Linked DNA regions of Homo sapiens: region 2 is linked to region 1. The links come from fine-mapping of genetic effects on plasma protein levels. A gene starts in region 1. The other region holds a variant in brackets. All regions are shown on one strand. Distances are between the middles of the regions.

Region 1 (5,376 bases):
GTCGAGGCTGCAATGAGTCATGATCGTACCACTGCCCTCCAGCCTGGGTGATAGAGCGAGACCCTGTCTCAAAAAAACAAAAACAAACAACAACAACAACAAATCAAGTGCATGCATGAGCGGTGGACATAGTACCTTAGGGTCATGTACACTCATGGATACATGCTCAATGGCATAGATACACTCACGGGCACAATTACACACGTGGGTACACGCTTAGGGCTTGTATATATCCGTGGTCCCAGGTACACTCAGGGAGATGTTGTATGCTCAGGGGCACCCACTCTGGGACACAGGGAAGACACAGGGAATGAGTTACTCATTCACAGATGCACAGGTACTCACGCAGGGCACTCAGTCTCGCCCACCCTGGTGCCCCGGGGTCATTGTCACGTGCAGACTCTCCCTCTCCCCAGGTCCCAAAACCCCTCCCCTTGCCCCAGTAACAGGTCCCATAGCGACGCTGTTTTCCCTTGACTTTATTTATCTTCATAAGTCACAAAATGTGAGTGCAGAGATAAATGTCTGTGTGCATGTGCCCTGAGCACACAGGGTGGCATAACTCGGCACACTCATAATGACACAGCCGTTCACCCAGCCACAGATAGTGACAGGGCACACATGGCGACACCCACATGTACGGAGATAAATCTCCCCCACCATGACATGGGTAGACAGAAAACACGCCGCAGTATACTCTAGTATGTTTACACAAACAGGGAGACAGGCCCGTGCAATGCATGTCACCAACACCCACACTCAGAGTGACATCTGCTGGAGGTGCTCAGACACAGCCACCCACCGTGACATGCCGAGACTCACATATGTCACATGACACAGGCATGCATGCCACATTCACTGTGACTCTCAGTCCTATTCATTCATCACCTTTCTGGGAGATACACTGAAATGTCCACCCTTTGCAAAATGCACACACACGCGCACGCACACACGCACATACACGAACACACGCGCACACACGCACACACACGCACGCAGGTGTACACACACACGAGCAACTCCGAGACACTCATTCACCATGACTCGAGGTTTTTCTATACGTGGGACGAGGGGCAGGTTCACACTAGGCTGGGGGGGGGGGGTCATTTCCCGTCTTCGTTGGCAGGTGCAGCCCCATCTTCCAAGTTGTGGCTTTGGCTGCCACAATGTCCTCTCATTTATTGAGGTGAGGACTCTGGGGATGGGGAGAGACCCACAGTGAGGCAGATCCCGCCCCTGGGAGAGGAGCTGGGGCTAAATCTGAAGCCCCACCCACCCTCCTCCACCTCCTGTCGGGGCGCCAACTTACGTGGCATTTTCTGCAGCACCTCCAAGATTTTCTGTACCTTTGTGTCAATGTTTTTTATGCCTAGGGGGCGGGGAGGGTTGGGTGGGAACAGATAAGTCAAGCTGCGGTGGAGCCTCAAACAAAGCCCCCACCTTCCTTGGAAGCACCCCCCCTGCCCCACACCCACCCTGGGGTACAGCAGAGCCCATGGATTTGGGGTTCCCAGGAGCCTTTCAATACCCACAGAGCAACCCAGATGGTAACACCCATCGCCCCTCCACAACTTGAGCTTTGGGAGGGTAGGACCCCGGCTTTCTCCTCCCCTGAATCCCCTGCCCCCAGCTCAGCTCCGGGCATTGGTGACAAATAACCCCCATAGAAGGCGAGACTACACAGGCACCTGCTAATGTCGTCTCTAATCTATCAATCTTGCTCCTGACCATGGTGATGCTCTGCTGAACGGAATCCCAGCCTCTCTTCTGTCTCTCTTCGCATGCTTGTACGGAGTTTGAGACTGAGGGCATGAAACAGGGGTGTCTGTGCATCCATCCCTCTCCAGACCCCCACCATGACCCCACGGGTCTCCCTCAGACCCTCCGCTCACCATTCCAAAGCTCCCTTTTAAAGCCCAGCAGCTCCTTGGACATCTCAGCATCTGTTCAGGAGGGGCAGGAAAATCCTTGAAGCACCCAGGGAGAGAGAGAGAGAAGGACAAGGGAGAAAGTCTAGGCCCCCCAGCACCCTCCTCCCAAGAAGTACTCACTCTTCACCATGATGAAGGCTGACAGGATGATGCAGAGGACAAAGGCCAGGGCCAGGAGGATGTACAGGCTCAGGATGGCTCTGTACAACCAGCAGGGGACCTGGGTGGAGTCTGAGGGCGGCCTGCACTGGGCTGGGACTGGAGCAAAGAGGCAGCAAAGTGACCTTGAGGGGCCAGCACCACCACTCAAACCATCCTCACTGTCTCTAACACCATGGACACCTCGCTCCTCTCAAAACCATCAGCAGCTGTGGTCATGCAGCTTGTCATCATCGTCAACAACACTGCCACCACCAGCCACCCTCAGCGATCTAACACCGTCACCATCACAGACCCCCTCTCCAGCATTCCCCAACATTGTCATCATCAACAGACCTCATTAGCACGTCAACAGCTGTCACCTCTTCCTTCCCCATCGCTTCCTCCCTTCCACGCAGCCCCGGGGGCCCTGCAGTTGCCCGCCCACCTGCCCCTTCCCAAGGTGATGGGATGTGAGCAGGTGGGTGTCTGCTCACCTTGGCTCGTGGGTCGTGAATGACCACCCTTTGCATGGTCCTGATTTTTGAAGGCCAAGGTGATATTCTCATAGTCTGGGTCATGGGCACCTGGGAGGGGTTGGAGATCTGCTCAGAGCTCTGTGGTGTGGAGAGTGGATCCGGGATCTTGTTTTACCCAACCCTTTGCACTCAATAAATTGTAGGGGGTGAAAGATAAGGAGTGAGAAGCTAAAATCTGCTTTTTGGTTAAGTGGAGCGGGTGTGTGAGAGTTTGAGTGATCACACCACACACACATCCACACACACATCCACACATCTTGGAGGGGAAGGAGCCCCCGGCCCCCACCTTTGACCCCTTACCTCTCCCATCTGAACTCTCCTTCTTTTTTTATTTTTATTTTTTACAGACAGAGTCTCCCTATGTTGCCCAGGCCAGTCTCCACCTCCAGGGCTCACGCAATCCTCCCGCCTCAGCCTCCCAAAGTGCTAGGATTACAGACATGAGCAAAAGCCCCCGGCCCCCCAATCTCTCCTTCTTAACCCCTCCCTTCCACCTCGAGTTCCCTAACCTTGATTCTTGGCTGAGACCCCCTGTTTCTTGTCCCTGAAGGCTGGTGCTTGCATCTTGACTTCCTGGTGCTTGTAGATTTCCTCCACTTCCATGGTCCCCAGCCCGCAAATTTGTCCATACACGTCCCCGCCCACCGGAAGGTGTGGGCAGATGAGGAAATCTGGAGGTGGGGGGAAGAAAGAGGGGGAGCAGCCTCCTCTTTTCAGGGATCCACGACTCTCGCACCCTGGGGCACCCTCATTCCTGCCCCGATCAAGAGGCTCTTGGGAGCCAAGAGGTCTCAGGAAGGACCAAGAAGAAAAACCTCTAGACCGGGAGATGGAATTCGACACTCGGAAATGTTACAGGAAGCTGTGGTCTCTGTGTGTGTCTGTGTCTACCTGGATGGACCTCACCCTCCTACCTCCTCTCCATTTCAAAAGAGAAGCTGTGACACCTCAGTGTCCCAACTTTTCGCGTAAGAGCAACCAGGCTTGGAGACAGGACCCCTGGGTCCCCCCACACCTTCCTCCCTCCAGCCTCAGCTCCACCCCTCAGCTCCACCCCCAAGAAGTTCTTCTACTTCTACAAGTCCCCGTGGAGGAAAAGCACAGATGTGAGGCAACGGGAACTAACCACTGGAACGCCACACCCACATCTGGGACTGAGGACAGACCCACATCCTTCCCTCCCTCCCCAAATCCCCTGCTTTTATACAACCCTGGAGGAGGCTGGGTGCGGTGGCTCACGCCTGTAATCCCAGCACTCTGGGAGGCTGAGGTGGGTGGATCATCTGAGGTCAGGAGTTTGAAACCAGCCTGGCTAACATGGTGAAACCCCGTCTCTACTAAAAATACAAAAATTAGCTGGGCGTGGTGGCGAGCGCCTGTAATCCTAGCTACTCAGGAGGCTGAGGCAGGAGAATCGCTTAAACCTGGGAGGCGGAGGCTGCAGTGAGCGGAGATCACACCATTGCACTCCAGAATGGGTGACAAGAGGGAAACTCTGTCTCAAAAAAGAACCCTGGAGGAACAGTTTCCTCTGCACCTGGAAACTCCAGGTTTCTCATTCTCATCCATCCATCTGCTTATCTACCCAGATACTCTCTCTCACACATGTACACACACAGGTCTGCACACGGACACACATCACAAACTCATTTGCATACTATTTGCATTGTGACACTCAGAAAAATAGACACAAGCATGCGTTCACATGCCCGCACTCTGTCTAGAAGGTGTCTTAGTTCACTTTGTGTTTATCTGATCTTGAAAACTGGGGTTACAAAAGGCACAAAGTAGCTGGGTATGGTGGCTCGCTCTGTAGTCCCAGCTACCCAGGAGGCTGAGGTAGGAGGATCATTTGAGGCCAGGAGTTTGAGACCAGCGTGAGCAACATAGCAAGACCCTGTCTCTTTAAATGTTTTTTAATAATTTTTTTTTGAGACAGGGTTTCACTCTGTTGCCCAGGCCGGGGTGCAGCAGCGTGATCATGGCTCACTGCAGCTTTGACCTCCCTGGCTCAAGTAATCCTTCGTCCTCGGCTTCCCGAGTAGCTGAAATTACAGGTGGGCACGACTTCACCTGGCTAATTTTTCTCCTTTTTTGAGATGGAGTTTTGTGCTTGTCACCCAGGCTGGAGTGCAATGACGCTATCTCAGCTCACTGCAACCTCCGCATCCCAGGTTCAAGTCATTCTCCTGCCTCAGCCTCCCAAGTAGCTGGGATTACAGGCATGCACCACCACCCCCGGCTAATTTTGTATTTTTAGTAGAGACGGGGTTTCCCCATGTTGGTCAGGCTGGTCTCGAACTCCTGACTTCACGTGATCTACCCGCCTTGGCCTCCCAAAGTGCTGGGATTACAAGCATCAGCCACCGTGGCCCAGTCTAATTTTTCTTATTTTTTGTAGAGATGAGGGTCTCAATATGCCGTCCAGGCTGGTCTTGATCTCCTGGGTTCAACTGATCCTCCAGCCTTGGTCTCCCAAAGTGCTGGGATTACAGGCATACATTTTTATTTTTATTTTTTTCTGGCCAGGTGTGGTGGCTCACGCCTGTAATCACAGCACTTTGGGAGTCTGAGGCGGGCGGATCACCTGAGGTCAGGAGTTAGAGACACCAGCCTGACCAATATGATAAAACCCTGTCTCTACTAAAAATGCAAAAATTAACTGGGCGTGGTGGCAGGCGCCTGTAATCTCAGCCACTCGGGAGGCTGAGACAGGAGAATCACTTGAACCCGGGAGGTGGAGGTTGCAGTGAGCCGAGATCGCGCCA
Region 2 (5,376 bases), 24 kb after region 1:
TCTCACTCTGTCACCCAAGCTGCAGGGCAGTGGGACAATCTCAGCTCACTGCAACCTCTGCCTCCCAGGCTCAAGCGATTCTCCTGCCTCAGCCTCCTGAGTAGCTGGGATTACAGACATCCACCACCATTTCCAGCTAATTTTTGTATTTTTAGTAGAGGTGAGGTTTCACCTTTTTGGTCAGGCTGGTCTCCAACTCCCAAGCTCAGGTGATCTGCCCACCTCAGCCTCCCAAAGTGCTGGGATTACAGTTGCGAGCCACCACGCCTGGACTGCTCTTCATTCTTTTTTCAGAACTTTCCCAGCTGCCAACAGAGACAGAAACTGAATCATCTCAGAAGTGAATGAAGGAGGCTGAGGGCGGGTGGACTGCTTGATTAGGAGTTCGAGATTTGCCTAGGCAACATGGAAAAAGCCTGTCTCTGCTAAAAATACAAAAATTAGCCGGGCGTGGTGGCACATGCCTGTAATGCCAGCTGCTTGGGAGGCTGAGGCAGGAGAATCACTTGAACCCGGGAGGCAGAGGCTGCAGCGAGCCGAGATCGCGCCACTGCACTCCAGCCTAGGTAACAGGGCGAGACTCCGCCTCAAAAAAAAAAGAAGGGAATGAAGGACACCCAAAATGGAGCCTCTGTCTGCCAGGGCTTTGCTATCCTGGCCTGCCTATCCCAGCCCTGGACACCTCATCTCTGATCCCACCAGAGCGGAACCTTCCCATTCGCAGGGCCATTTCCTTACCCAGAAACCTTTTCACAATGTTCTTGGCAGCAGCTGTTGGTCAACTGTGTTTTAAGGTTTTTGAGCAACTTTACAGAAAATAAAAGGGAAGCTACCCTCAATGTCTGGGTCTCCCCCTGGGTGGCCTCTCTTTGTCACCTTACTCATTTCCACGAGATTTCCTTGCTTCGTTGAGTTACATCACCTCCTTTTCCTGTCTGGGTCCAGGACGCCTCCTCTGCAGGTCTCCAGCACTGATTCCTTTGTCCCCGATTTCTCTGCTAGGGTCGCTGGCTTCACCATCCCACCACCACTGCTGCTGGCCCAGCCCGCAGCTTTAATTTCTCTGGACCCTCACGTTTTTGTTATTTGTGTTTTTTTTGGAGATGAGGTCTTGCTCTGTCACCCAGGCTGGAGTGCAGTGGTGCAATCACAGCTCACTGTAGCCTCCACCTCCCAGACTCAAGTGATCTTCCTGCCTCAGCCTCCCAAGTAGCTGGGTGTGTGCCACCAGGTGCAGCTACATTTTTTGTAGAGGCAGGGGTCTTGCTATATTGCCCAGGCTGGTCTCAAACTCCCAGCTTTAGATGATCCTTTCACCTCGGCCTCCCAGAGTGCTGGGATTACCAGCATGAGCCACTGCACCCGTCCTCTCATGTATTTTTTATTAATCGATTTATCTATTTACTTATTTTGAGACAGAGTCTTGCTGTACCACCCAGGCTGGAGTGCAGTGGCATGATCTCGGCCCACTGCAACCTCCACTCCCTGGGTTCAAGTGATTCTCCTGCCTCAGCCTCCCGAGTAGCTGGGATTACAGGTGCCCGCCACCATGCCTGGCTAATTTTTGTATTTTTAGTAGTGACGAGGTTTCACCGTGTTGGCCAGGCTGGTCTCGAATTCCTGACCTCAGGTGATCCACCCAACTCGGCCTCCCAAAGTGCTGGGATTACAGGCGTGAGCCACCGCACTCGGCCTCCCTCATGTATTTTTAAGCGGAACAGGTTCAAGATCACAAATGTTTTCCTCTCACTCTTTCAATGAGTTTCTATTCTAGAATCTCCTGCACGCCACAGGAAGGAGAACTCTCACCCTGTAATGCACATAAATACATGAGATCACCATTGTTCTCACCCAGTAATCAGAATCGTTAGTGATAATTAGTAATAAATTTATTTTTACTATATCTAATAAATTAGATAGTAATTACTATGGCAGCCAATCGTTCCTGGGTGCTCCCTAGATGCTTCCAAGGGAGCCACACGTGACCCTCAGGGCTGTGCCCATTCCAGGCTCTTCTGCTGAGCTCATGTAACCGCTTGCCTCAAGGCATTCCACAAATAATACATAAGTCAATGTATCACGTTGTCACTTTCTGTACAAACCAGCTAGTTCCGGAGGGAAGCAGAAAGCCTTTTTCAGAAGAACCACAGCTAATTCCAGTAG[C/T]AGGAATGATAAAGTTGGACATAATCCTCAAGAGAGTAATGAATCAAAAATGGATGGCGGGCCAGGCACGGTGGCTGATGCCTGTAATCCCAGCACTTTAGGAGGATGAGGCAGGTGAATCATTTGAGGTCAGGAGTTCAAGACCAGCTTGGCCACCATGGTGAGACCCCGTCTCTACTAAAAATACAAAAATTAGCCTGGCATGGTGGCTCATGCTTGTAGTCCCAGCTTCTTGGGAGGCTGAGGCAGGAGAATTGATTGAACCCTGGAGGTGGAGATTGCAGTGAGCCAAGATTGCATCACTGCACTCCAGCCTGGGCAACAAGAGCGAAACTCTATCTCAAAAACAAACAAACAAACAATAACAACAACAAAATTGATGGCTGCTAATGACTTTTTTTCTTTTCTTTCCTTTTTTATTTTTATTTTTTATGAGACAGGGTCTCACTCTATCGCCCAAACTGGAGTGCAGTGCCGAGATCATAACTCAGTGCAGCCTCAACCTCTTGGACTCAAGTGATCTTCCCACCTCAGCCTCCCATGTAGCTGGGACTACAAGCAATTGCTGCCACATCTGGCTAATTATTTTATTTTGTTGTATTTTATTTATTTATTTTTTGAGACAGAGTCTTACTCTGTCACCCAGGCTGGAGTGCAATGGCATGATCTCAGCTCACTGCAACCTCCGCCTCCTGGATTCAAGTTATTCTCCTACCTCAGCTTCCTGAGTAGCTGGGATAACAGGTGTGCACCACCACGCCTGGTTAATTTTTGGTTTTTTGGTAGAGACGGGGTTTCATCATGTTGGCCAGGCTGGTCTTGAACTCCTGACCTCAAGTGATCCGCCCATCTCAGCCTCCCAAAGTGCTGGGATTACAGGTATGAGCCACCGTGCCCGGTCTTTATTTTATTTTTAGTAGAGACAGGGTTTTGCTATGTTGCCCAGGCTGGTCTCAAACTCCTGGGCCTAAGTGATCCTCCTGCCTTGGCCTCCCAAAGTGCTGGGAACTACAGGCGTGAGCCACTGGGCCCAGCTCCTGTTAACATCTTTATGTGGAGAGTTACTGGGGACCAGGGACATTCCCCAAACCCACCCATCAATCGTAGTGACATGACGTTATGGACCCCCTGATGTGATGTACCAGGAAGTACCCGGCCCTACCAGCATGATATTATTCTGGCTGCAACTGACCCTTATTCCAATAGAGCATGTGGTTCTAAGCCATTTATAGGGTAAACATTGGGGCAGGGATGGGGAGAGAGGAAGCAACCTGCCAAATCCAGAATGAGGATCATTCCTCGGTACCAGAAGAGAACCAGAAAGAAAGCACCCTAAGTGGGGATACCACAAGGAAGTAAAGCAGGGGCCTCTCCCAGCTGGGGAAGGGAAGGAGGAAGGAGTACAATAGCTTGCAAGGCACAGCATTGCGGATGATGGGAATAGCAGGTGCAAAGGTTCTGGGGCAGGGACAGTGTGGTGTGTTTGAAGAACAGCAGCCAGGTTCACCATGAGATGGGAAATGGACTTGGGGGAAGGGATCTCAAAGGATAATTTTTTTTTTTTTTTTGAGACAGGGTTTCGCTCTTGTTGCCCAGGCTGGAGTGCAGTGGCATGATGGCTCACTGCAACCTCTGCCTTCCGGTTTCAAGCGATTCTCCTGCCTCAGCCTCCCGAGTAGCTGGGATTACAGGCGCCCACCACCACGCCCGGCTAATTTTTGTATTTTTAGTAGAGACAGGGTTTCACCATGTTGGCTAGACTGGTCTTGAACTCCTGACCTCGTGATCCGCCCGCCTCGGCCTCCCAAAGTGCTGGGATTACAGACGTGAGCCACCGCGCCCGGCCCCCCAACTTTTTTTTTGTTTTTAACACAACTTCTCGCTTTCTCACCCAGGCTGGAGGGCAGAGGCACAATCATAGCTCACTGCAGCCTCGAACTCCTAGGCTCCAGCGATCCTCACAGGAGGGTTTTGAGGATCTGCATAAAGCGTGCAGAGGGAGCTTGACTTCGTGCTCGTTAGGACCCGATATTGTCAGCTGCCGCCGCCCACAGGGACACATAAATATTTGTAGACTCAATATTTGCCTTTAGTGTGAAGACATTGCATCACCTGGGTATAAGTAAGGAGCAGAGGCAGAGGCGGTTTAAGCAACAGACTTTTGTCTCCGCTGAGAACCACGGAATAACCCCTGACCTACTTCCCCGTCGTGTCTAATTCGGGTCACCTCATCTCCAGTTACAGACGCGGAAGATCAAAGAAACCGGGAAATTGCGCCGCAGCGCCCCCTGGCGTTCGCAGCGCGTGCCTACACAAGCCACTCCCGGCGCAAAACTGCGGCTTCCCAGGAAATTGAGTTTAAATGTTTTTTTTTCTTTTTTCTTAATCTAGAAAAGATCATTTATTGTATCAAGTAACTACCCAGTTAGGCGTGAATACATTTTAAAATTTTTATTAAAACGAGTATTGGCCGGGCGCGGTGGCTCACTCCTGTAATCCCAGCACTTTGGGAGGCCAAGGCAGGTGGATCACGGCGTCAGGAGTTCGAGACCATCCCGGCCAACATGGTGAAACCCCGTCTCTACTAAAAATACAAAAATTAGCTGGGCGTGGTGGCACGCACCTGTAGTCCCAGCTACTCGGGAGGCTGAGACAGAAGAATCGGTTGAACCGGGGAGGCGGAGGTTGCAGTGAGCTGAGATCATGCCACTGCACTCCAGCCTGGGCGACGGAGCGAGACTCCATCTCCAAAAAATAAATAAATAAATAAATATAATATAATATAAAATAAAATAAAAAGAGTATTGTAGAGATTGGCTGGGCACAGTGGCTCACACCTCTAATTCCTGCATTTTGGGAGGCTGAGGTGGGAGGTCTTCAGCCCAGGAGTTAGAGACCAGCCTGGCCAACATGGCAAAACCCCATCTCTACTAAAAGTACAAAAATTCGCTGGGCATGGTGTCGCACGTCTGTGATCCCAGCTTTTTGGGAGGCTGAGGCAGGAGAATCGCTTGAACCCAGGAGGCAGAGGTTACAGTGAATCGAGATCGCACCACTGCACTCCAGCCTGGGCAACAGAGTGAGACCTTGTCTCAAAAATACATATATTTAGGAATTTGCTATGTTGCCCAGGCTGGCCTCAAACTCCTGGCCTCAAGCAATCCTCCCACCTCGCCCTCCCAAAGTGCTGGGATTGCAGGCGTGAGCCACTGT

Direction of the effects. Positions count from the first base shown, and alleles are read on the strand shown. Strength reflects both the effect of a copy and how common the allele is.
In carriers of allele C in region 2, the plasma level of the protein whose gene starts at base 3,203 in region 1 tends to be higher than with T alone (weak association).

Evidence for each region. PIP is the posterior inclusion probability: the model's chance that the variant is causal. The UK Biobank Pharma Proteomics Project read protein levels with antibody pairs (Olink). The fine-mapping took linkage between variants from a reference panel, not from the people measured, so its PIPs are less certain.
Region 2: its variant is fine-mapped to the plasma level of the MCEMP1 protein (UK Biobank, PIP above 0.99).

What each region holds. Positions count from the first base shown.
Region 1 is chr19:7,674,917-7,680,292 of GRCh38, reverse strand. MCEMP1 (mast cell expressed membrane protein 1) reads right to left here and starts at 3,203. Exons shown (of 7, transcript NM_174918.3): 1 at 3,118-3,203; 2 at 2,567-2,656; 3 at 2,052-2,189; 4 at 1,893-1,943; 5 at 1,689-1,802; 6 at 1,310-1,369; 7 at 464-1,195. The coding sequence starts at 3,172. The coding sequence ends at 1,179. RefSeq lists an enhancer at 2,167-2,236.
Region 2 is chr19:7,651,271-7,656,646 of GRCh38, reverse strand. No RefSeq gene overlaps it. Among named protein-coding and RNA genes, the nearest start is that of RETN, 15 kb to the left of the region's middle. The variant C/T (reference allele first, on the strand shown) is at 2,164.